6 linked regions of the Homo sapiens genome follow. The protein of the gene in region 4 purifies or fractionates together with the protein of the main gene of each other region. This does not show direct contact. Each region holds a gene or a part of one and is shown on either strand. Other genes may lie near its edges.

Region 1 (3,770 bases), on a different chromosome or scaffold from region 4:
GAGAGGCTGAGGTAGGCCTCCCAAGCAAGGTTCAAGGAGCTTAAGTGCAGGAGTTCAAGACCAGCCTGGGTCACATGGCAAAACCCTGTCTCTATTTAAAAAAAAAACAGGCCGGGCGTGGTGACTCATGCCTGTAATCCAGCACTTTGGGAGGCCGAGGTGGGCAGATCACAAGGTCAGGAGTTCAAGACCAGCATGGCCAACATGGTGAAACCCTGTCTCTACTAAACACACACAAAAAAATTAGCTGGGCATGGTGGCTAACACCTGTAATCCCAGTTACTTGGGAGGCCGGGGCAGGAGAATTGCTTGAACCCAGGAGGCAGAGGTTGCAGTCACCTGAGATCATGCCATTGCACTCCAGCCTGGGTGACAGGGCAAGACTCCGTCTCAAAAAAAAAAAAAAAAAAATAGCTGGGCATGGTGGCTTGTGCCTATAGTCTCAGCTACTCATGAGGCTGAAGTGGGAGGATCACCTGAGTCTCAGAGGGTAGAGGCTGTAGTATGCCATGACTGAGCCACTGCACTCCAGCGTGGGCAACAGAGTGAAACCTCGTCTCAAAGAAGAAAAAGAAAAAAAAAACACCAAAGGTAGCCGCAACAAAGAGTTATCTTCAATCTGTCTTGAGTTTGACCAATTTCAGTAAACACCTTTTTTTTGTTTGTTTTTTGTGACAGGGTCTTGCTGTCACCCAGGCTGGAGTGCAGTGAGGCAATCACAGCTCATTACAGCCTCAAACTCCTGGGCTCAAGCAACCTCCTGCCTCAGCTTCTCTAGTAGCTAGGATTACAGGCGCACGCGCACCACCAGACCTGGCTAATTTTTGTATTTTTTGTAGAACTGGGATGTTGCTATGTTGCCCAGGCTTGCCTTGAACTCCTGGCCTCAAGTGATCCTCCCTCCTCAGCCTCCTAAAGTGCTAGGATTACAGTAAATATCTTTTTTACTGATTACAAATGAAGGGACACTATAAATTTTTCAAAATTACTAAATATGTATTTTTACCATGTAGTTTAGTCAGTTGAGAAATACATTTATTTTCCTTAATGTTTAGGGATACCTCCAGCAAATCACATTTACTCACTCATTCACCATGTGTGAGGTATTGGTAAGATTATACTGCAGTGAGGAAAAACATTAATCATAATCATACATAAATGTAAAATCTGGCCGGGCACAGTGGCTCACGCCTGTAATCCCACCACTTTGAGAGGCCAAGGCGGGCCACATCACGAGGTCAGGAGATCAAGACCGTCCTGGCCAACACAGCGAAACCCCGTCTCTACCAAAAATACAAAAAATTAGCCAGGCGTGATGGCATGCGCCTGTAGTCCCAGCTGCTAGGGAGGCTGAGGCAGGAGAATCGCTTGAACCCAGGAGGCGGAGGCTGCAGTGAGCCGAGATCACGCCACTGCACTCCAGCCTGGGCTACAGAGTAAGACTCCATCTCAAAAAATAAAAAAATAAATAAAAATAAAATAAAATCCAACTGTGGTCAGGATATGAAGGATATGAAGGAGAGGTAGCCAGGGCAAGAGATCACATAATAGGGGACTCTGACCTAGCCAGAGGAAAGAATTATCCATGAGGAAGTGATAACTAGGCTGAAATCTGAAGAACAAAAGTGATAGTTAACTGACAGGTGGGAGGTGAAGACATGCATTCCAGGGAGAGGACAACCTGTGGGTTTCCATGGCAAGAGGGAATGCGGCATGTCAAAGAACTCAAAAGGCCAAGAGAGCTGCAGTACAGAAAACGGGTTTGGCAAGATCATCACACAGGGCTCACTTGCCCACGTTAAAGAATTTTGATGACCGAGTGTGGTGGCTCAGGCCTGTAATCCCAGCACTTTGGGATACCGAGGCGGGCAGATACGAGGTCAGGAGATCAAGACCATCCTGGCCAACACGGTGAAACCCTGCTCTACTAAAAATACAAAAATTAGCTGGGTGTGGTGGCGCACGCCTGTAGTCCCAGCTACTCAGGAGGCTGAGGCAAGAGAATCGCTTGAACTTGGGAGGCAGAGGTTTCAGTGAGCCAAGATCGCGCCACTGCACTCCAGCCTGGCAACAGAGCCAGACTCTGTCTCAAAAAAAAAAAAAAAAAAAAAGGATTTTGGTCTTTACTCTAAAAGATCAAGCCAAATGAAGATTTAAAACATGGGGACTTTCTGCTCATGCCTATAACCCCAGCACTTTGGGAGGCCGAGGCAGGTGAATCGTTTGAGGTCAGAAATTCGAGGCACCCCTGGCCAACGTGGTGAAACCCCATCTCTACTAAAATTACAAAAATTAGCCAGGTGTGGTGGTGGGCGCCTGTAATCCCAGCTACTTAGGGAGGCTAAGGCAGGAGAATCTCTTGAACCTGGGAGGCAGAGGTTGTAGTGAGCTGAGATCACACCACCGCACTCCAGTCTGGGCGACAGAATGAGCCCCTGTCTCAAAATAAAAAATAATTTTTTAAAAAGGAACTTTCTGAACTACAAGAAACAGAAGTTAACCCTATTGAGAGCTGTTTACAAGGATGGAAGAGACCAGAATGGGTGAAGGAATAGGAGGTATGAAAAGGGAGTCAGTAGGCTGGGCATAGCAGTTCAGGCCTGTAATCCCAGCTACTAGGCTGAGGCAGGAGAATCATTTAAACTTGGGAGGTGGAGACTGCAGTGAGCCGAGACTGCACCACTGCACTCCAGCCTGGGCAGAGTGAGGGAGGGAGGGAAGGAAGGAAGGAAGGAAGGAGGGAAGGAAGGAAGGAACAAAGGAAGGAAGGAGATGGAGTCCATGAATACTAACAAATCTTTTGAAAGGCTTGACTAGGAAGAGGACAGTAAGTGGAGTGACGCATGAGATCATCAGTGGAGAGAAAGGGAAGAGCAAGAGAGAGAAGTGAATATACAAGACAAAAAAAGGGGTAACAGGTGAAGAACACAATGGGTGGGATTTACATTAGATAGGAAGACAGAGGAAAAGTGATTCAAAAGAATGCAGACACACCTAGGTTTGTAGGTTTGAGAGTGAATAAAGGGAGTTCATGTATGTTGGCTCCTATTTTCTCTGTGACTAGAAGTCTGAGGGTTTAGTTAGTTGCAGGTTAAAGATTTGAAGAGTGTAGAAAGGTCTGAAGTAGTCACTGCTGTGAATGGACGAGGTGACCAGACTATCACAGAAGGACTGCCAAGCAGTGTTAATAGTTGCTTATTCACAAGTCTGTGAGTGTACTCAGCCAGGTTGATACAGGTCACAAGACTAGTTAAGTTATACAGCTGAAATACAAGCATAGGTTTTTTTGTTTGTTTTTTGTTTGTTTGTTTTTAAGACAGAGTCTCGCTCTGTTGCCTAGGCTGGAGTGCAGTGGTATGATCTCGGCTCACTGCAACCTCCTCCTCCTGGGTTCAAGCAATTCTCCTGCCTCAGCCTCCCGAGTAGCTGGGATTACAGACACCTGCCATCATGCCAGGCTAATTTTTGTATTTTTGTAGAGACAGGGTTTCACCATGTTGGCCAGGCTGGTCTCGAACTCCTGACTTCAGGTGATCTGCCCACTTCAGCCTCCCAAAGTGCTGGGATTACAGGCATAAGCCACCACACCTGGCCAACCATAGGTCTTAGAACTCTACAATCTCTGTATTTTTTCCTTACAACTCCAAGATGTTTGATTTTTTAAAACTGTAATTTAAAGGAAGCACATAACATAGAATGCAATCTCAACAAATTTTAAGTGTACAGTTCAGCAGTGTTCAGTGTATTCACATTGTGCAACAGATCTTCAC
Region 2 (3,770 bases), about 71 Mb from region 4:
CTCATCCCGAAAAATCAAGATACTCTCTGGAATATGAACCTTCTGAAGAAAGAAGACAATGTCACCTCGCAGAGGTAGTTCAGAACGTTTTATATTTAAAACTGGCACAAAGACTTCCTCAGCCTCAGTTGTCTAGATAGGAAAGTGAAAAGAAGGTATCACAAGGTTTTATAATGACAGGAAAAAGTAACAAGACTACTGGGACCAAAGGAGACATACTTAGGTAAGTTACCACCTTTCTCAAAGCCATAAGTACCCAGTCTATAAAAATGAAAGGATGACTTTTGCCCTCCCTCCTTCTTAGTAATAACATGAAAGTCAACAAGGTAACTCATGGTAAATACCTATTTCTAGATGCAATGCTGCAGAGAAGGAATTTTTAGTCCTCAAGAACTAACCTGGGCAGAGGAATACACACTAGATCACTGATACCTATACGGAACTCAGTAATAAACTGTTTGAATATTGCTTTATGGTTTACATATCCCTCGAAATATATTTGCTCACTTTTTTCCTCACAGCAACACTGCAAAATATCATTTTAGTTTTTATGGATGGTGGCATGAGACTCAGCAAAGTTAAGGGATTTAATTTACCCAATGCTAAATGCTGGTAAGTGGTAGAGCTGGGTCTTGAATCCAGATCTTTTCGTTCTGAGGGACTCAGATCCTAGGTACTACGTTTTTTTACCCACCTTTGCTAGGTAAAAAGCCAGGGCAAGAGCAGACACTGTGGAGTCCAAATCACAGGCTTCATTTCCCAGCACAACATGTAGAGGTCGGGACTCCTGGAGAGAAAGGAAAATGGGAAACTAACAAAAGTATCTCTATTCATTTCCACTTATCTTTTTTTTTTAAATAATATATATATTTTTGAGACAGGTCTCACTCTGTCGCCCAGGCTGGAATGCAGTAGCGTGATCACAACTCCCTGCAGCCTCAACCTCCTACTAGGTTCAGTCGATCCTCCTGAGTAGCTGGAACTACAGGAAAGCGCCACCATGCCCAGCTAATTTTTTGTATTTTTTTGTAGAGACGGGATTTTGCCATGTTGCACAGGCTGGTCTCAAACTCCTGGGCTCGAGATCCAAAGTGCTGGGATAACAGGTATGAGCCACTGTGCCTGGCCTCTCCATCTACCTTATACTCATGTAGGGCTTCACACACTTCCTCTCATTGATCTTCACAGAGGAGGTAGGTCAAATAATCTAATGGGTCCTCATTCCATAGATGGCATAAGTGTTTCAGCTAAGCTTATAGCATTCTACCTATATCCAGTTTGTAGAAAAGTGTTCTTTCCTCCTATCTCCTTCAATGTTAACTTATAGAGCAGTAAATAAACTTCGGATTTCTTATCTTCTTTGGGCACTCAAACAGTCAAAAAAGGGAATTTGGGGTAGCTGATACATTCAAGGCATGCTCTTGGGCATATCAACCCTGGTTGATTATTTTCTTCCCATTTTCATAATAGGTAAAAGAATGCTTATACTTTTTTTTTTTTTTTTTTGAGATGGAGTTTTGACCAGATTCTCATGCCTCAGCCTCACAAGTAGCTGGGATTACAGGAATGCGCCACCACACCTAGCTAATTTTGTATTTTTAGTAGAGATGGGGTTTCTCCATGTTGGTCAGGCTGGTCTCGAACTCCCGACCTCAGGTGATCCGCCCGCCTTGGCCTCCCAAAGTGCTGGGATTACAGGCGTGAGCCACCGTGCTCGGCCGAATGCTTACACTTCTAAATCATGATTGCAGGTGAAGAGGCTTTGAGAATAAAGGTTAAAAGTAAGATCTAGTCCAGGGCTGGGCGTGGTGGCTGGCGCCTGTAATCCCAACACTTTGAGAGGCTGAGGCGGGCGGATCACCTAAGGTTAGGAGTTTGAGACCAACCTAACCAATATGATGAAACCCCATCTCTACTAAAAATACAAAAATTAGCCAGGCATGGTGGTATGCGCCTGTAATCCCAGCTACTCAGGAGGCTGAGACAGGAGAATTGCTTCAACCCGGCAGACGGAGGTTGCAGTGAGCCGAGATTGCGCCTTTGCACTCCAGCCTGGGCAACAAGAGCGAAACTCCATCTCAAATAAATAAATAAAATAAAATATACTAAAACTGGAGTGCCCAAAATCGGGGTGACAGGGTCTTGGGTTTTGTTTGGTTTTAAGCATTTATTGAATGTGCCAGGCATTATTCTCATATTTTTTCATGCATTAATCAATCATTTAATCTTTAACCCAATGAGGCAGGTACTTATATCATTTCATTCCAGGTATAAGCATTCTGCTGGGTGGAATGAGACCAGAAAGCCTATGGCCCAGCATATGGCACAATACTTCTGTCTTACCTGCTTACTTTTTTTTTTTGAGACAGGGTCTTACTTTGTTGCCCAGGCTGGAGTGCAGTGTCACTATCTTGGCTCACGGCAACCTCCACCTCCTGGGTTCAAGCAATTCTCCTGCACCATCCTCCTGAGTACCTGGGACTATAGGCATGCGCCATGATGCCCGGCTAATTCTTGTATTTTTGGTAGAGATGGGGTTTTGCCATGTTGGCCAGGCTGGTCGTGAACTCCTGACCTCCAGTGATCCGCCCACCTCAGCCTCCCAAAATGTTGGTGTGAGCCACCATGCCCAGCCCACCAGTTTACTTTTGAACTTCTATCTCAGCCTGGTTCTGAGAGAGGATGGGATGAGACAGACAAAATGAGACACACTAAATATAGCAGGGTTTCTCAATTTCAGCATGACTGGTATTTTGGACTAGATAATTCTTTTTCTTTTTTTAACTTTTACTTTTTGAGACAGGGTCTCACTCTGTAACCCAGGCTGGAGTGCATGGCGCAATCACGGCTCACTGCAGACTCCACCTCCCAGACTCAGGTGATCCTCCCATCTCAGCCTCCTGAGTAGCTGGGACTACAGGCACCCGCCACCATGCCCGACTAATTTTTTTTTTTTTTTTTTTTTGAGATGGAGTCTCACTCTGTCGCCCAGGCTGTAGTACAGTGGTGTGATCTCGGCTCACTGTAACCTCCACCTCCTGGGTTCAAGAGATTCTCTTGCCTCAGCCTCCTGAGTAGCTGGGATTACAGGCACATGCCACCATGCTCGGCTAATTTTTGTATTTTTAGTAGAGACGGGGTTTCACCATGTTGGTCAGGCTGGTCTTGAACTCCTGACCTCGTGATCCGCCCGCCTCAGACTCCCAAAGTGCTGGGATTACAGGCATGAGCCACCGTGCCCGGCCCTTGTTTTTTTTTTTTTTTTTCAGATGGAGTCTCACTCTGTCGCCCAGGCTGGAGTGCAGTGGTGCAATCTGGGCTCACTGCAACCTCTGCCTCCTGGGTTCAAGTGATTCTCCCCCTTCAGCCTCCCGAGTAGCTGTAGTAGACTACAGGCGTGCGCCACCACACCCAGCTAATTTTTGTATTTTTTAGTAGAGACAGGGTTTCACCATGTTGGCCAGGCTGGTCTTGAACTCCTGACCTCAGGTGATCCGCCCGCCTCAGCTTCCCCAAGTGTTGGGATTACAGGCGTGAGCCACCACGCCCAGCCAAATTTTTGCATTTTTTGTAGAGATGGGGTTTTACCATGTTGCCCATGCTGATCTCGAACTCCTGGGCTCAAGTGATACAGCTGCCTCGGCCTCCCAAAATGCTTGGATTACAGGCATGAGCCACCATGCCCAGCCGGATAATTCTTTTTTTGTGGAGGCTGTCCTGTGCATTATAGGATATTTGGCAGGATCCCTAGCCTCTACCCACATGGATGC
Region 3 (3,770 bases), on a different chromosome or scaffold from region 4:
AAAGTATTTTACAAGTGTTGTCTCATTGAATGTAAAGCTCTGATATCTTTTTTCTTAGTTTCCAGTGAGGAACCTGAACGATTATAAATGGTATTATTAAAATGTGTTCCATAGAATCTGTACTGTCAAGATTATCAGGATATCATTTGGAAATACATTCTGCTATTGAGAAATAGAGCTTTGCTGCATTATTCAAGATAATGTAAAAATCAAACTCTTTGGTATTATTTTTATTGAGTTTTAAAAAGAAAAAGTAAAAGATGTTTCTCTTCTTACAAAAACCAATAGGCCCCAGTGAAATATCATGGAGACAGATCAAAGGAGAGTTTAGTGAGTTTTGCAATGCAGCATGTTAGAAGTACAGTGACAGAACTTTGGACAGGTAATTTTATTTTCTTAATTTGCTTGATTTTCAGGGTATTTTGAAATCAGTATTTTGTTTTTAATGGCAATATTAACATTTTGGTCATGGTATTGAAATTTTAAAGTGTCTTTTCCATGTTTCTTAGAAGGGAATTGTGTCATTTACTCTGAACTCTGCTGAATTTAACAAACTAGTTAAATTTTTACAGAAACTTGAACTATCGAGATATGGGAAATGGATATGAGATAGGGCTACGGTAAAAAAGGCATCTCTCAAAGTGCAAAAAATGTTTTGTAATACAAGTGTTTTATTGCTTTTTTAAATATGCTTATCAATCAGTAAATTCAAACCTATTCTGTTTAATTTTAAAGTTTAAAAATGCTTCTAATCTTAGGCTTTTAACTCATTAACTGCCTTTAGGCAGATTAAGCTAATAATAGTATTTGTGGCTCAAGATGTTCATTTTATTCATTGAGTAAAGTTACGTGTCAGAAACTATTAAATAGTGGGGCTGCAGTAATAAAATATATAGTCCCTGCCATCAGTGACTTCATTAGTGAGGAAAACATTAGTAAACAATTAAAATGCAATATAGGTACTATTATTATAGAGCTTAAGGGAGCATAAGATGTGTAAAACAACCCAGTTGGGGAAAAGAGAAAGAGTTAGAAAATACTTCTTGAAAGAAGTCATATCCAATCTGTCATGAAAATGAATAGGAAGCCTTAGGAGATCACTGTGTATTTGGGGAACTGGCAATACTTCATGAATCTGACAAAAAGATCAATAATTGGGTCAAGTGGTGTGGGGAAATATAATATAGCTGGCTAAATAGGTAGGCAAAGCTCAAGTCACAGGGGCCTAACTTGCCAATTTGAGTTTTTTTCTTAATGAAATAATGAATTTAGGTTTTATATGATGAAAAAATTGGAGAGCCATTGAAGGAATTTGTCATACTCAAGAGTATCTTTGGAAAGATAACTGGTAAAACTCAGAGTGGATTAGAAGAGGGTGAGATTAGAAAGGAAAAATTACTTAGAAGACTGTTTCCATTAGTAAAGGAGTAATAGGTGATCAGAATTTGCTTTTTTTCTTTTATTTTTAAGGAAATTTTGTCAACTCCATACAAACTGCTTTTGCTGCTGGTATTGGCTGGCTGATCACTTTTTGTTCAAAAGGAGGAGGTAATACTATTTTTTAATTTTGTTGGAATGAGAACATGACATTTAAATTTTTGGTGACAGTTTTAAGTATGCTACTGTAATTGATTATTAAGTACTAGAAACTACAATTTATGCCCAGGATTACAATTTTTTTACTTAATGAATATTCGCCTTTTTCATTATTTTACACATGAGGTTATTATTCATTTTTTAATGTATCCTCTATGTTTTTATGTTCAGTGGACCAGTTTTTCAGCTTAGACTCATGATAAATTGTACCTTCAGATAGCCACAGATGTTATTTGACAATTTGCAAAAATAACTAGTTGTTTACAGCTCTAACCCCTCCCAAAATAATAATTTTTTGGAAATATGGACTTTGCTTCATGCTTATATATATCTCTCAAACATACATAGATTTGCCTCATACAATTATATACTTGAAGATGACAGCTTCTTCTAGGAACCTTTCCTTGAATAAATTAAGTTGAAAATTCAGTACTCTGCATAGCAAGCCGTAAACTGTAAACTGTGTTCAAGCAATGTGGTTGGTTAAAAATTGTTCTAAGACAACAAAATATTATAACTCAATGTATTTGCATGTATTTAATCCCAACATGAGTCTTCTCCCCACATTTCATCTCTCAGCCTTCATGCTGCTATATTGAAAAGGTACTGCCTTGTAACTAAAATCAACCCATTACCCCATCCTGTAAGGCCTATGCTAGAAAGACACTGCCTTGCAGCAAAACGTCAGCCTTAAACTTAACTAATCACCAAGGGATTTTGTCTCATTTTGGCCTATTGCCCAAATTTCTGTTCATCCACACATGAACAAAAGTTCTTACATTCTCTGAGATTCTTTTACTTCTCACCTCAAGTAAATTGCTTCTCCCTGTCTTTGTAGGCTCTGTGATGCTATAGCTCTCTTTCTTCTAAATCTTCTCTCATTGTATTCTAGTGTTCATATTTGCAGAACTTTCATAAAAATAGTGAAGGCACTATTTAAAGATTTTATTGTATTTTGAGGATCCTTTATATACTTCTATCAAATATCTATTACATTTTATTTCCCCCCAATTTTGAGATCTCTTGGATAAAATGGATTGTTGATAGGAGGAGAGATTGAGAGTATTAACCTAAAGAGAGAAAATTACTTTTTCTCTGTAGCTAGACATCCTAGAAATTAAAGGGAGAGAATGAAAGAAAGAGGGAGCGAGGGAGTGTGTGTGTGTTTTTGTGTGTGTGTTTGTATGTGTGTGTGTGTAGAAGGATTTCCATATCTATCAATAGAGTCCAGCTCAATTAATTGCCTTCGAATGAACATGGTAATTTGGGGGAAAGGCAAATGCAAGTATTTTCATCAGGCTTAATAAAGGTAAAACTGCCTCATAAGGTTTTTTTGTCCCCAGATTGTTTGACTTCACAGACACGACTCAGGCTTAGTGGCATGTTGGTAAGCATCAATCATTTTGTAAAACTATATCACCATGTAAAGAAACACATTTAGAAATTGATTTGAAACATTTTCTTCCCTTATTTCTTGAACATTTAACTCACCTATTTGTAATCTTATTTTCTGATGACTGTATTCATAGCTATGTGTTTTTTCCTGAATAATTAGTTACGTTCAATAAATTTTAACGTGGTATCAATTCTAAGTGTCATTTACTTTGTAAGTATTCTGTAATTTATAAGTTCCTCTTCAACTGAAGTTACATGTTAGTGTTTTTGTCATTTCCCAACTTTATCTTTTGTTGTTTTCTTTTTTAGTCATTTTTAAATGTATATAGCTCTCATGTTATGGCTGGGAAGTAGCCTGAGTGATGTTGATTTTTTAACACCATTGAAATACCCTTTGTGGCTTTGTGGCTTGACAAAGCCACACAAATTGTCAGTTTTGAAAATTTTGGAAATTCTTTGTGAGCTTGAATATAATAATGTTATGTTAGGTGTAATATATGTTAGGTGTAGTATTACATTTATTAGATCAGATTTATTAATCATGTTATTTGTTTTTGGACTACATGATCTATAATTTCTAAGAGGGATGTATTAAAATCTCTACCATCCATCATTGATTTATCTATTTCTTATATTTCTGTCAGTTCTTCCTTTACATATTTTGACATTATATTGTTGGCAGCAGTATGATCATTATATCCTTTGGCGGCTATTTATTTCTCTTTGTGCATTATGGATTTGTTTACACAAATTCTGTTTTATTTGATATTAAAATCACT
Region 4 (3,770 bases):
CAGTATATGCCTTCAAAAATGTTATTATAAACATTTTCAAGCATATAGAAAAGCAGAAAAGTGTGTAATGAACATCCATACACCTATCAACCAGATTAAACAATTATATTTTTCCTATTTGCTTTCTCTTTTCTGTTGAAATATTTAAAAATATAGATAATGTTTTAATGTATTTAAGTATGTTTAATGTGTAAATTAATGTTTCAAATTCAATAAAGCTGGAAATATTTTATAGTATACTATGAACATTTTCACTCGTAAACACTTGAGTGTCATGTACCCATTTTTAAGTGCTTTTCAACTTCGAATCCCTCTGTGACTGACTGGCAGTCAGGTCTACAGAGGAGCTTCCCTCCCTGGGAGTAGGAGGGCTCCAGGTGCCTCCTTGGGGTCTGTGTGTCCCCCTTCCTCCCTGGTATGTCAGAGCCCATGCCTCTACTTGCTCTATGCTGTTGTAAAACAAGGAATGACCAACTGCTACAATCTTTATAGGACTGCTCTGTACCAAAGGCCTTTACTGGGGGAATGTGAGAAGAAGAGGGAAATGGTTTAAAAGGATGATCCATGGGGAGGATTTGATCATGCAGGCAGTTAGGCCTTTATACTATAAAACTTCATCACTCCTTAGAATTGAGCACCATACATTGCACACTTTTCCCTAGTTGAAAAGAATTCTGAAATATACTCTTATTGGCAATAGAGTTCTATGACAAAGTGGATGGCTAGGCTCAGAAATCAGAGACCTGTGAAAAATATTCTGTTTCTGCCCTTTTTTCGGGGGTGGGGTGGGGAAGGGAATAAAAGTCTCCCCTTTTCTCTCAGAGATGTTATGAGGATTTTAAAAAATACCTGAAATAAAGACATATCTACATTCATAAACGTGCTGTTGTTATTCTGAGCCTCTGGTTAACATCCAAGGCTAAAATGTCAAACATTAGCCTTGTAGCAAATGATGGAGAAATCAAGGCAGAACTTCGGATCTAGTCAGCCTGAATGCTAGCCTTGGCTCCCCTCTAACTAGGTATGTGCCCTTGGGGAAGGAACTGAATCCTTCAGTTCCTTAGTTACCTCATTAACAAAAAGAGGATATAACAATAGCTATCTCAAAGTGTTAGTTTCTGAAATAAATGAATTAATGTGTGTAAAGTGTTCAGAACTTTATACACATACATGGTAAGCACTCCATAAATATGGTAGAATGTTTTTATTGATATTGATTGAAAGGAAATGATAGTGCCAGTACAAAGGCAAATTTTGTTCCTAAGGAGTACAAATAACAAGCTAGGTATAGTAGAGTGTGTGTGTTGCTATGGCCTAAAAATAACTTGGTGACTGTTAACTAATTTAAGTTGCATAGAGTTGGAGTGCCAAGTAATTGCAAAAACATATTGGGCCAGGAGGCTGGAGTAATTTGGGTATATCCAGAATTATTTGTTTTAGGGAAATTTGTAAAAACATGATAATAATTCTGTCCAAATAATGTCCCATAACAAAAGCATAAAACTTTTTAGCTTTGCTTTTTGTTGCCTCTCATCATCTCATCAGGAGGATTTATTTTTGGAATAAGGATTGTGGACTGACTATAAAAGGGTAGATGGAAGGAGGGGTGCGCTGGTTCCTGAGCCTAGGGTTGTGTTGAGTTAGAATGTGAAGGAAAAAGGAGGGAAGGAGTTGAATGGCCTGCTCCTGTCTTTCAGGAAGTCCTGAAACTTCTTTCTGAACTGCTGCACAGTTAGTTGGCTGTCCTCTCTCTGAGCTTTTGGGTACACTCTCCTGCTTCCTAATTTAAGTGTAGGTGAACAGATAATAGAAATGAACTCTCTCTCCCAGCCATGTTCTTGCTTTATCTGTTCCTCATTCACGATGTGCTCAGCAGAGTGAAATTTTGCTCACTTACACCTGGGTTCAAATCTAGGCATTTCCATTGACCAACTGTATGCCTTTAGGCAAATCAGGGGGCCTCTCAGAGGCCAGGTTTTCTTCATTGTAAAACAGGGACAGCTCCAGCATCCTAGGTTGAAACAAGGTGATACAAAGTACCTGGCATTTGATGGCTGTCAATAAATCAAGCCTCTGGACCCTGCTCTCCTACTCTCATGCACTAATGTAAGAACCTCTTACATTGCAGGGGCAGGGGTATTGGGGAGGATGGGCAAGTCGTTCTAAGCACAGTACTGTGGGAGCCTGTTAAGTATGAATACTCTTGCCCTTACCAATTCAGAACAGTTAATTAACTTAATCATCCAGCTTGTCATGGACAAGTTCAAGAAACTCCTCTCCTGGCAATAGGAGACATGATTTCACATTAGAAAAGCAAAGCAGGGGAAGGAAACTGAATAGGTAAAGCACTTTGCCTATTTCTGTTTTCAAAGCACGTGTGTATAGGAGAAAGGAGAAGGGAGAATGGTGAATATGTACACTTTTCTACTTGGTCCTTTAGGCAAACCCATCTGAAGGTCTGACAAAATTACAGGAGCAGAAAAACTTTCCGTCACATACTCCTGGTGCATACACCCTCAGGGACTAAGTGGGAGCTTTTGACCAGTAGCAAAAATCTAGTTCCTTAAACCCTGCATTATCAGAAGCCAGAACCTCCAAGCCCCAGCATTGCTGAAGAGCAGTTTGGGCATGAATGTGTGATATATCGGAGTGCTTAGGCAGTTTAATCCAAGTTGGTTGAAAAAGATAGACTACATATTAAGGAGAGAAATTCTAGTTCCAGGAGAGGTCATCTCACCTTTTTGGAACTAAAGAATCCCAGCTTTGAGAAGAGCAAGGAACTTTAGAGGGCCCCTAATCCAGTAGTTTTCACTGCAGGCTGTTCATTGGTATCACCTGAAGGTGATTTATAACCTATGATGCCCAGTTCGTGTGTCCAGAAAGCCTGATTAAATTGGTCTGGGGTGCAGCCTGCACATCAAGATTTTTTTAAAGCTCCCAAAGTGATTCTAACAGGCAGCAAAGTTTGAGAACCATTGATCTAGTCCGGTATTCTCATTATGCCACTACAGGAATGGGGCTTGTCCAAGGTCACATGCATGATTAATTTTAGAGATTTAGTCCTTAATGTTAAAGTAGGTCTTGCCAGGTTCAACAGATTCAATAGATATCAACAGACTGAGGTATTCGTATGTATCATTATTTAATAACAACAGAATCTAATATATAGCATAAAATATAAGATTTTTTGAGTACTGATGCCTTTTTTCTTGAATTTTGAGATTTCAGTTCAGAACTAAAAAGACCAAAGTCTGAGGACTTTCAAAACCAGCAGTTCATGGTCTATATATTTACCTGGATATTAGAATATGGACCAAATATTAATGTTGATTTAATCTCTTCATCTGGGGAACCTAGTGGTTTAAGCTGTTAACCTAGTGGTTTCAGCTGTTAACAGCTATCAAAACAGGTATCAAAGAAGCCCAACCATCTTAGGCTTCTAGGGACTTTTTGGTAGGTGGTCTCCACAGCTGTACAAACTTGTGGGCAGAGGAGATTCATTTGTTTGTTCAATAAATATTGTTGAATGCCTTTGGTGTGCTAGGCACTAATCTGCAGGCTGGGCAATCTGCATCACAATGCTTATCATTCAAATGCAAGAAAGACAACATATATGGATGGGACCAGTCTTCCAGATCCTTTCCATCTTGGAAATTGTGTTCATGTTTCTATTCTTCATCTTCTTCTGCCACACAATCTTATTTAGGGAGTGTTTCATCTTCACGAAATTTTGTTCTCCTGTGAAGCACATGTTTGTACTTTTTTTTTCT
Region 5 (3,770 bases), on a different chromosome or scaffold from region 4:
GATTTCTCCCAAGCAGTGCTCTTTGGTCTCCTTCCAATGCAGAGGAAGTCCCCTCAAACGAGGCCCTTCCTATTATTAGGGAGGGTCGACAAGACCTCAGAAGAGGCCTCGAGACTTCAGAGGGAGCCACAAAACCTTTGAAGAGGCCACAGGACCTCCAAAGAGGCCAGCAAATCAGAGGAGAAAAGGGTGCTGGTTGCACGGAGAAAACTTACCTAAGATGCCTTTCAAAACCAGAAACTTGCTTTGCTGCGAGCAGTCTATGCACCAAAGGTTGACATTGCCCTGTCAACAGGCAGGGCACGGGTGGCAGCCCATATAGTTCAATGGAACCCAGTGGCCGCTTGGGCTTTGGGCTTGTCTCTGGGTCCTTCCCACTGAACAGCGAAGGCGCACCAAGCCGCAGGCAAGCAAATGCCCACAAGGGGCTCGAGGCTAGACTCACCATAATGTGTTATAGGACCAGCAGGTTTGTATGCCTGCTGTGCAGTAACAGACTTGTTACACTGAGACAGCAGAGTTTGCAGCAGAGGAAGAGTTTCATGATTGCAGGGCACCGAGTGAGAAGATGGGAGGAGATCCTCAAATCCATCTCCTTGAGGAGTTCTGGGCTGGGCTTTTTTGGTTTTGTTTGTTTGTTTGTTTTTGAGATGGAGTTTTGCTCTTGTTGCCCAGGCTGCAGTGCAATGGCGCTGTCTCGGCTCATCGCAACCTCCGCCTCCCAGATTCAAGTGATTCTCCTGCCTCACCCTCCCAAGTAGCTGGGATTACCAGTATGCAGCAACACGCCCGGCTAATTTTGTATTTGTAATAGAGACGGGGTTTCTTCATGTTGGTCAGGCTGGTCTCAAATTCCTGCCCTCAGGTGATCTGCCCACCTTGGCCTCCCAAAGTGCTGGGATTACAGGCATGAGCCACTGTGCCCGGCCTGGGCTGGGGCTTTTAAGGGGACTGGAGGGTGAGGGGCTGGAAAATTGGGAGAGTTGATTGGTGGGGCAAGGGGGATGTAATCATCAGGGTGTACAAACTGCACTCTTGGTTTAGTCAGCTCCTCGTGGGGTCCTTCGGAGCAGCTCAGTCAGTAGCTCCATCAGTATACAGGACCCAAAGGAATATCTCAAAGGGAAAACAGCATTTCCTAAGGTTCAAGTTGTGATCTACGGAGCAGTTAGGGGAACTACAATCTTGTGACAGGGTCTACATGCTTCTGAGGCAATGAGACACCAAGCAGCTACGAGGAAGCAGTCAGAGAGCACGCCGACCTAGTGACTGATGCTGATGTGCTGCGAGCTGGGTTCATTTTCATTTCTCCCCTCCCCCTGCCCTCATTAATTTTGTAAAGTTTATAGGGAACATTTCACCCACTCTGCTGTGGATCCCTGTCACTTACGGAGTCTGTCATCTTGGCTGTATGGGCTGTGGCCTCTGCGGTGCCCATTCTCAGGAGGTGTGAGACCCATGAGGACCGGAGGTGGACAAGGCTAGAGACCACACCCCCCCGCTCCATCCAATCATGTTTTCCTGGGTGCTTGGTTTCTATGCAGGCTGCATGTCCTTAGTCCCTGCATGGGAACAGCTCCTGTGGTGAGCAGGCCCCTGAGGAAGGCCTTGAGCGGGAATGGAGCCTAGGCTTAGGCTGCCTGGTAAGAGCTGGAGGGAACCAGCCGAGGCTTGTGCTACTTTTTTTTCCAGAATGAAATACGTGACTGATGTTGGTGTCCTGCAGCGCCACGTTTCCCGCCACAACCACCGGAACGAGGATGAGGAGAACACACTCTCCGTGGACTGCACACGGATCTCCTTTGAGTATGAGTATCCTTGTGGCCCAGCCTGAGGGGCACAGGCAGCACCCCTGCTCAGCAGGCCTTGTTTGCTTTGTCACCCTCTGTGGGTTCTGGCCACATCCCCAGGAGGGAAAGCAGGTGGGGCAGGAAGTTTTGGGGGAAGGGGCTGTGGTGTGCTACCCCAGCTCATCTGTGTGGCTTTGGCTTCTAAATGCCAGAGCTGAGTTTGGAAGTATCACCCTTCTCCAGCACATCCCTGTAAAGTGCTTATTGTGGGCCTGGCTCTGGACATGGTAGCAGTGCGGGCAGTGGTTCACGCAGTCAGGAAAGAAGGCAGCTGCCATGTAATCACACAGCGTGACGTGTCTTTTGAGAAGCACATGGGACATTGGTGGAGTGCTCAGAAAAGACCATGGGGAGACCACATCTCACACAGTCTCAGCCACACTCAGTGTGGCAGCTGCTGTACTGAGCACAGGAGGGGCTGGGGGACTGGCTGGGGTCAGGTGTCAGGAGGCCAGAGCAAGCCTTGTGAGCCAAGGGCAGCGGGAGGCTGTGGAGTGACCAGAGTTTGAGTCAGGGTTTTTAAAAGGTCCCTTGGCTGCCCAGTAGAGGTAGGTTGGGGGCAAGGAGATGGTCACTGCTTTCCAAGGCCACACAATAGTGGCTTGGCCCAAACTGCAGCAGTGGCTGTAAGCAGTCAGATAGCATGATGTCAGGGACGGAGCTGCCCTGTCTCTGCACTGTGATGGCTGGGAAGGAGGAAGAGTGAGGGTGGACACGTCAGTAGTCAGGTGGCCATCGGAGCCTGGGGAGCGGGGTGGAGCTGGCTGAACTCCTGGGGAGGGGAGCCGCTGTGCACTGGAGCTGGTCCCATCATGTGCGTGGCAGGGTGGGCTCACTTACCCAGGGACCATGGGAGTGTGTGACTGAGACAGGAGGGAGGGAGTCAGGGAGCTGAGGATGCTGGGGCTTGAGGAAGCTGCTGGAGTGTGGGCAGGGAGCATGGTGGTCTGAAGGCCTGGGAGTTCCCAGGAGTTGGGAGGGGCAGTGGTGGGAACTGAGCATGCCGAGGAAGCAGGCAGGACCAGGCTCTCGTCCTGTAGAGGGGAAATCCACCGTGGGGGACAGTCCACACTCACAACTGCGCTCACGGTGCCAGGGGCAGTGATGGATATGTTTAAGAAAAGGGCTGAGGAGGTCGGGCGCTGTGGCTCACGCCTGTAATCCCAGCACTCTGGGAGGCCAAGGCAAGTGGATCATGAGGTCAGGAGATCGAGACCATCCTGGCTAACACGGTGAAACCTCGTTTCTACGAAAAATACAAAAAATCAGCCAGGCATGGTGGCGGGTGCCTATAGTCCCAGCTATTCGGGAGGCTGAGGCAGGAGAATGGCGTGAATCCAGAAGGTGGAGCTTGCAGCGAGCCGAGATCGTGCCACTGCACTCCAGCCTGGGCGACAGAGCGAGACTCCGTCTCAAAAAAAAAAAACGAAAAAAGGGCTGAGGATGGGGGCGCTTCGTGGATGGGGTCCCAGTGGAGGGCTCTCCGGAGGAATGGGTTGTAGGGAGGGCTGGGCTAGGTGGAGCAGGAGGTGCAGGACGACAAGCTGGTGACGCCCAGCCTCCTACGTCATGTGTGGCCATGACTGCTCCATGTGACCACAGCACCTGGACTTTGCAGACCCCTGTGCTCCAGATTCTCTGCCTGTCAGACGGATGGTGGTCTATGCCTGTCACTTCACAGGCTCTCTGTATGGGTCAGCTTAAGCTAAGAAGGTCAAAGGGCTCCAGGTCACTCTTGGGATACCTGGTTTTGCAGGCAGGCCTGGTGAGAAAGGGCCCCGCCATCAGAGTGGCCCACCTGCTGGAGTTACGAGAGTGCTCAGGGCGGCCAGTGGGTGCTTGCATGCTCCTTGACTGCAGGCCCAGCCTCCGCCTGGTGCTCTACCAGCACTGGTCCCTCCATGACAGCCTGTGCAACAC
Region 6 (4,360 bases), about 69 Mb from region 4:
TGGGGTGAATGAGGCAAGAGTTAGAGAAGGGCAGGAGAGAGCCCGCCCAGGGAAGGGACACAGGAAATCAGAAAGGAATTTCCTCTAGAACCAAGGTGCAGAATCGAGGAAGAAAATGAGGGAGACCAGGATTCATAGAGGAGCTTCCTTCCTCTGGGGAGGAAAATCCCAGGTGGAGCAGCAGGGTCTAGCCGAAGCCCCCAGGGTCTGTGGCTCCTGAGAGGTGGATTTGCTGAGGAGAGAAACCTGGACCCAACACTGAAAAAGAGCTAATGTGATGACAGAGCCCAGAGTTTAGGCATGGCAGTGGCCCTGGCCCATCCCAGAGGGAAGTGGCCGGTCAAACAAATGCTAGCAGAGAGGGAAGGACATGGGTGTGGAAGGGAGGGTAAGCCTCTTCTCCTTCATGAATTATCAGCTCACACCTCTTCTCAGCTCACACCAGGAGGCCTGGCACAGGACAGTGAATCATGCCCAAGAAACTGCCTTGTGGCTTCCTGCCTTCCTCCCTCCCTCCCTATCTTTCCTCTTTTCTTTTCTCTTTTCTTTTCTTTTCCTTTCCTTCCCCTCCCCTTCCTTTCTTCCTTCCTTTCTTTCTTTCTTTCCTTCTCTCTCTCTCTCTTTCTTTCTTTCTTTCCTTTCTTCTTTATCTATCTCTGTTTCTTTCTCACTTCCTTTCTCCCTTCCATGAACCTACAGCTCTATTCAGGAGAACAATGACTGTCCATTGACTTAACACCCATGATAACCAGGCACTGTGTGACGCTGAAGTAGAACAAGGGGCTTTCAGAACCTGGTGGAAGGAGCTGGGCATCAGGTTCAAGGGAGTAACACAGTCGTGGAACATTGGGAAAGGAGGAGCTATTCACATGCCTGAGATGTAAGGATGTCTGGATTTTCCAAGGGCCGCGTCTAGTAAGAGAGTGTGTATTGAGGGCAACTCTGAGTTAGTGACTTGAGGTTCATCCTGTAGTGATCAGAGGAAATGGCTGGTGTATGAACCTAGGGAATCAGCACGCTCCTCTTCCTATGTCACTCCTGGAGAAGAAAGATACCACAAGAGGCAGGGTCTTCAGGGCTGAGCCACAATGTCACACAGATCCAGTCAATCCTGCCTGTCCATCTCAATGACATCTACTATCCCTGATCAACACGGCACCTTAAGGCGCCCTTCACAGTGAAAGCAACTTATTTCCAAAGCAGGCATTTTGCCTTCCATTGCTCCTCCCAGGTCCAAATCCAGTAAGAGACTGAAAATCAGATGATTCACTTATTCTGCACCATCCCCATGGCCTCGCAGAACCAGAAATGCCTATTGTTATTTCCATGTCCACTTCAACCATGAGGAAGCCCAATAGGACTAATCTGGCTAAAGATTAGGGCCCAGGCCAAGAGGCCTGGCTCGTTCTAGTCCTAGGAGCATGGTACTTCCTCCTAATTTAATCCATTGCCATTCAAGAAGACCTTTGCCCACAGCAACCACACCACAAAGGGTGGACAGTGAGTCAGGCCCAGGTGACATCACTGTCAGAGCTTAAGTGACAAAAAATGTTAAGCCAGAGATACTTATCACAAAAGCTGGAATGAAGTTAGAGCAGTCTTTTAAAAAATCCAATTTTCTTAAGGCAGGGCTCATTTTCTATATAAATACCAGCTAACAAGAGACTCTTCACCAGATCCCAGAGGCTGAACACCTCGACCTTCTCTGCACAGCAGGTGAGTCTCCGCATTAGGAACACCTTAATATTCTCCAATAGTTTCTTTATTTTGATTGAGATCTCTTTGCTATGCAATGAATATATTTATTTTAAATGCAATAACGACTTTTGTTTAAGGTGACCTTATACATATTTTGACTTTCCACTCAGATTACAGGTGTGGAACTTAGGATCAGAAAAGGGGAGTGATTTCTGTAAAGGCTTGCTAAGTTAGCAAGACAATATACCCACTTCAAGAGCACTCTCCTGTCAACATGTATTGAAAATTTTTAATATAGAAGGCACTACATTGGCAATTTTGATGATCAAAAGATAAGTTTTTCTTTATTGCATGAATGTATAATCCATTAGAAAACATATACTTGACTAAAATTTGCAAACATACAGCATGGGGAGTGATTAGCAGAGAGGGAAAGCAAGTATCATGCTGTGGCAAAACGAGGAAGGTGAGAGCATCAGGAAGGACAGCCATGAGAGGTGGGCATGTGTGGGGAGGCAGCGATGATGTGGAGAGCCTGCCAGAGAGCATGTGCAGCAGGCACAGTGTGAACAGAGGCTCCCAGGTGGATTGTGGGAGCCTTAGGGGGAAGTTTAGATAAGAGTTCTCCTGGGAGAACTATCGCACTCTATAAGGAGGACATGAGTGAGTAGATTCTAGACTGCTGACCTTAAAATCTTTCCAACTTATGGAAAAACTGAGGTGTCACATCAATCTTCAGCCAATGACACACAGCCAAGAGTGGTATTAAAAGTGATTTAATCAGGGAAGAGCAAGAAACATGCATTTCTTTTCACTCAATTCCTCAGATGATCCCTGAGCAGCTGAAGACCAGAAAAGCCACTAAGACTTTCTGCTTAATTCAGGAGCTTAGAGGATTCTTCAAAGAGTGTGTAAGCGAAAGCTTCAGAGTATATATTTGCATATTTGTATGTGTTTTCATGTTGTACGTAGGTTTTTAGATGTACCAGGAAGAAAAGAAGCATAAAGAAAGGCTCCATTTACACGATGTGGAAGAAATCAACTTTACCTTATTCTCTGGAAGATAAGTGGGGATCACCAAAGCATCCCATGATCTCAAATTCAGGGAAAAAGAAAGAAAAGAGAGGCTCTCAGTTCTGAAGGAGAATGAAATGACAGATATTTGTCATTAAACTGGGCTTCATTCCTACTTAATCAAAGCACTGAATTAGCTGTTTTGTCTCTAGGTCCAGCATCCTTTGAAGCATGAGTTCTTACCAGCAGAAGCAGACCTTTACCCCACCACCTCAGCTTCAACAGCAGCAGGTGAAACAACCCAGCCAGCCTCCACCTCAGGAAATATTTGTTCCCACAACCAAGGAGCCATGCCACTCAAAGGTTCCACAACCTGGAAACACAAAGATTCCAGAGCCAGGCTGTACCAAGGTCCCTGAGCCAGGCTGTACCAAGGTCCCTGAGCCAGGCTGTACCAAGGTCCCTGAGCCAGGTTGTACCAAGGTCCCTGAGCCAGGCTGTACCAAGGTCCCTGAGCCAGGTTGTACCAAGGTCCCTGAGCCAGGCTACACCAAGGTCCCTGAACCAGGCAGCATCAAGGTCCCTGACCAAGGCTTCATCAAGTTTCCTGAGCCAGGTGCCATCAAAGTTCCTGAGCAAGGATACACCAAAGTTCCTGTGCCAGGCTACACAAAGCTACCAGAGCCATGTCCTTCAACGGTCACTCCAGGCCCAGCTCAGCAGAAGACCAAGCAGAAGTAATTTGGTGCACAGACAAGCCCTTGAGAAGCCAACCACCAGATGCTGGACACCCTCTTCCCATCTGTTTCTGTGTCTTAATTGTCTGTAGACCTTGTAATCAGCACATTGTCACCCCAAGCCATAGTCTCTCTCTTATTTGTATCCTAAAAATACGTACTATAAAGCTTTTGTTCACACACACTCTGAAGAATCCTGTAAGCCCCTGAATTAAGCAGAAAGTCTTCATGGCTTTTCTGGTCTTCGGCTGCTCAGGGTTCATCTGAAGATTCGAATGAAAAGAAATGCATGTTTCCTGCTCTTCCCTCATTAAATTGCTTTTAATTCCAGTCTTGGCTGTGTGTGTCATTGGCAGAATCTTCCTCCTTCCTTGTTTCCCCATTGTGAGTCAGGACCTATAGACAGAGAGGAGTTGATGTAGAAGTCATCTATTTAACCCCAGTACTGTTTGTTTCTATGGGTGTATGGGGTTACAGTTGAGGTGTTCCTGGAATGGCAATGGGCCTGGTGTGATGTTGAATAGAAGTTGTCACTTTGGGCAGCCACAGGCTCTCCTCTTGCACTGGACTGAGTCATGCCTGACTCCAAGCCACCTGTTCCAAGACACCTCTGATCCTCAGTATCCTGACAACAAATCTCCTGTTTGTTCCAAGAAAACTTTACTCCTACATATTTTGACTGGACAGTCTATTTTTCTTCATTTGTTTTACCTTCTAGATACCCCACCACACACATACACACACACACACACGCACACACACACACAGAGTCATTCACAAAGAGAAACATTCATTTTAAATAGCCACACAGTCACATAATCATTCACACAAGCTCTACCCTCTCTAGCTCAATGTTATTTTTTCTAAGTAACTCTTATGTGCAGAGATCCCTAAAGATGGACCAGCAAGAG

What was found.
Region 1: the proteins of DUSP10 (region 4) and NUP205 purify together in Homo sapiens (affinity purification with mass spectrometry, with the first as the bait; one large-scale study listed by BioGRID). This does not show direct contact.
Region 2: the proteins of DUSP10 (region 4) and PRUNE1 purify together in Homo sapiens (affinity purification with mass spectrometry, with the first as the bait; one large-scale study listed by BioGRID). This does not show direct contact.
Region 3: the proteins of DUSP10 (region 4) and DNAJC10 purify together in Homo sapiens (affinity purification with mass spectrometry, with the first as the bait; one large-scale study listed by BioGRID). This does not show direct contact.
Region 5: the proteins of DUSP10 (region 4) and CDC45 purify together in Homo sapiens (affinity purification with mass spectrometry, with the first as the bait; one large-scale study listed by BioGRID). This does not show direct contact.
Region 6: the proteins of DUSP10 (region 4) and SPRR3 purify together in Homo sapiens (affinity purification with mass spectrometry, with the first as the bait; one large-scale study listed by BioGRID). This does not show direct contact.

What each region holds. Positions count from the first base shown.
Region 1 is NC_000007.14:135,560,887-135,564,656, reverse strand, and holds part of NUP205 (nuclear pore complex protein Nup205), read right to left. Parts: intron 1-3,770. UniProt on the Homo sapiens protein: Plays a role in the nuclear pore complex (NPC) assembly and/or maintenance. May anchor NUP62 and other nucleoporins, but not NUP153 and TPR, to the NPC.
Region 2 is NC_000001.11:151,014,829-151,018,598, reverse strand, and holds part of PRUNE1 (exopolyphosphatase PRUNE1), read right to left. Parts: intron 788-3,770; coding exon 695-787; intron 133-694; coding exon 1-132. UniProt on the Homo sapiens protein: Phosphodiesterase (PDE) that has higher activity toward cAMP than cGMP, as substrate. Plays a role in cell proliferation, migration and differentiation, and acts as a negative regulator of NME1. Plays a role in the regulation of neurogenesis.
Region 3 is NC_000002.12:182,729,560-182,733,329, forward strand, and holds part of DNAJC10 (dnaJ homolog subfamily C member 10 isoform 1 precursor), read left to right. Parts: intron 1-288; coding exon 289-382; intron 383-1,470; coding exon 1,471-1,548; intron 1,549-2,939; coding exon 2,940-2,983; intron 2,984-3,770. UniProt on the Homo sapiens protein: Endoplasmic reticulum disulfide reductase involved both in the correct folding of proteins and degradation of misfolded proteins.
Region 4 is NC_000001.11:221,731,929-221,735,698, reverse strand, and holds part of DUSP10 (dual specificity protein phosphatase 10), read left to right. Parts: exon of another isoform or gene 1-264; intron 265-3,770. UniProt on the Homo sapiens protein: Protein phosphatase involved in the inactivation of MAP kinases. Has a specificity for the MAPK11/MAPK12/MAPK13/MAPK14 subfamily. It preferably dephosphorylates p38.
Region 5 is NC_000022.11:19,503,670-19,507,439, forward strand, and holds part of CDC45 (cell division control protein 45 homolog), read left to right. Parts: intron 1-1,692; coding exon 1,693-1,812; intron 1,813-3,716; coding exon 3,717-3,770. UniProt on the Homo sapiens protein: Required for initiation of chromosomal DNA replication. Core component of CDC45-MCM-GINS (CMG) helicase, the molecular machine that unwinds template DNA during replication, and around which the replisome is built.
Region 6 is NC_000001.11:153,000,078-153,004,437, forward strand, and holds SPRR3 (small proline-rich protein 3), read left to right. Parts: upstream 1-1,671; 5' UTR 1,672-1,716; intron 1,717-2,525; exon of another isoform or gene 2,526-2,609; intron 2,610-2,924; 5' UTR 2,925-2,943; coding exon 2,944-3,453; 3' UTR 3,454-3,779; downstream 3,780-4,360. UniProt on the Homo sapiens protein: Cross-linked envelope protein of keratinocytes.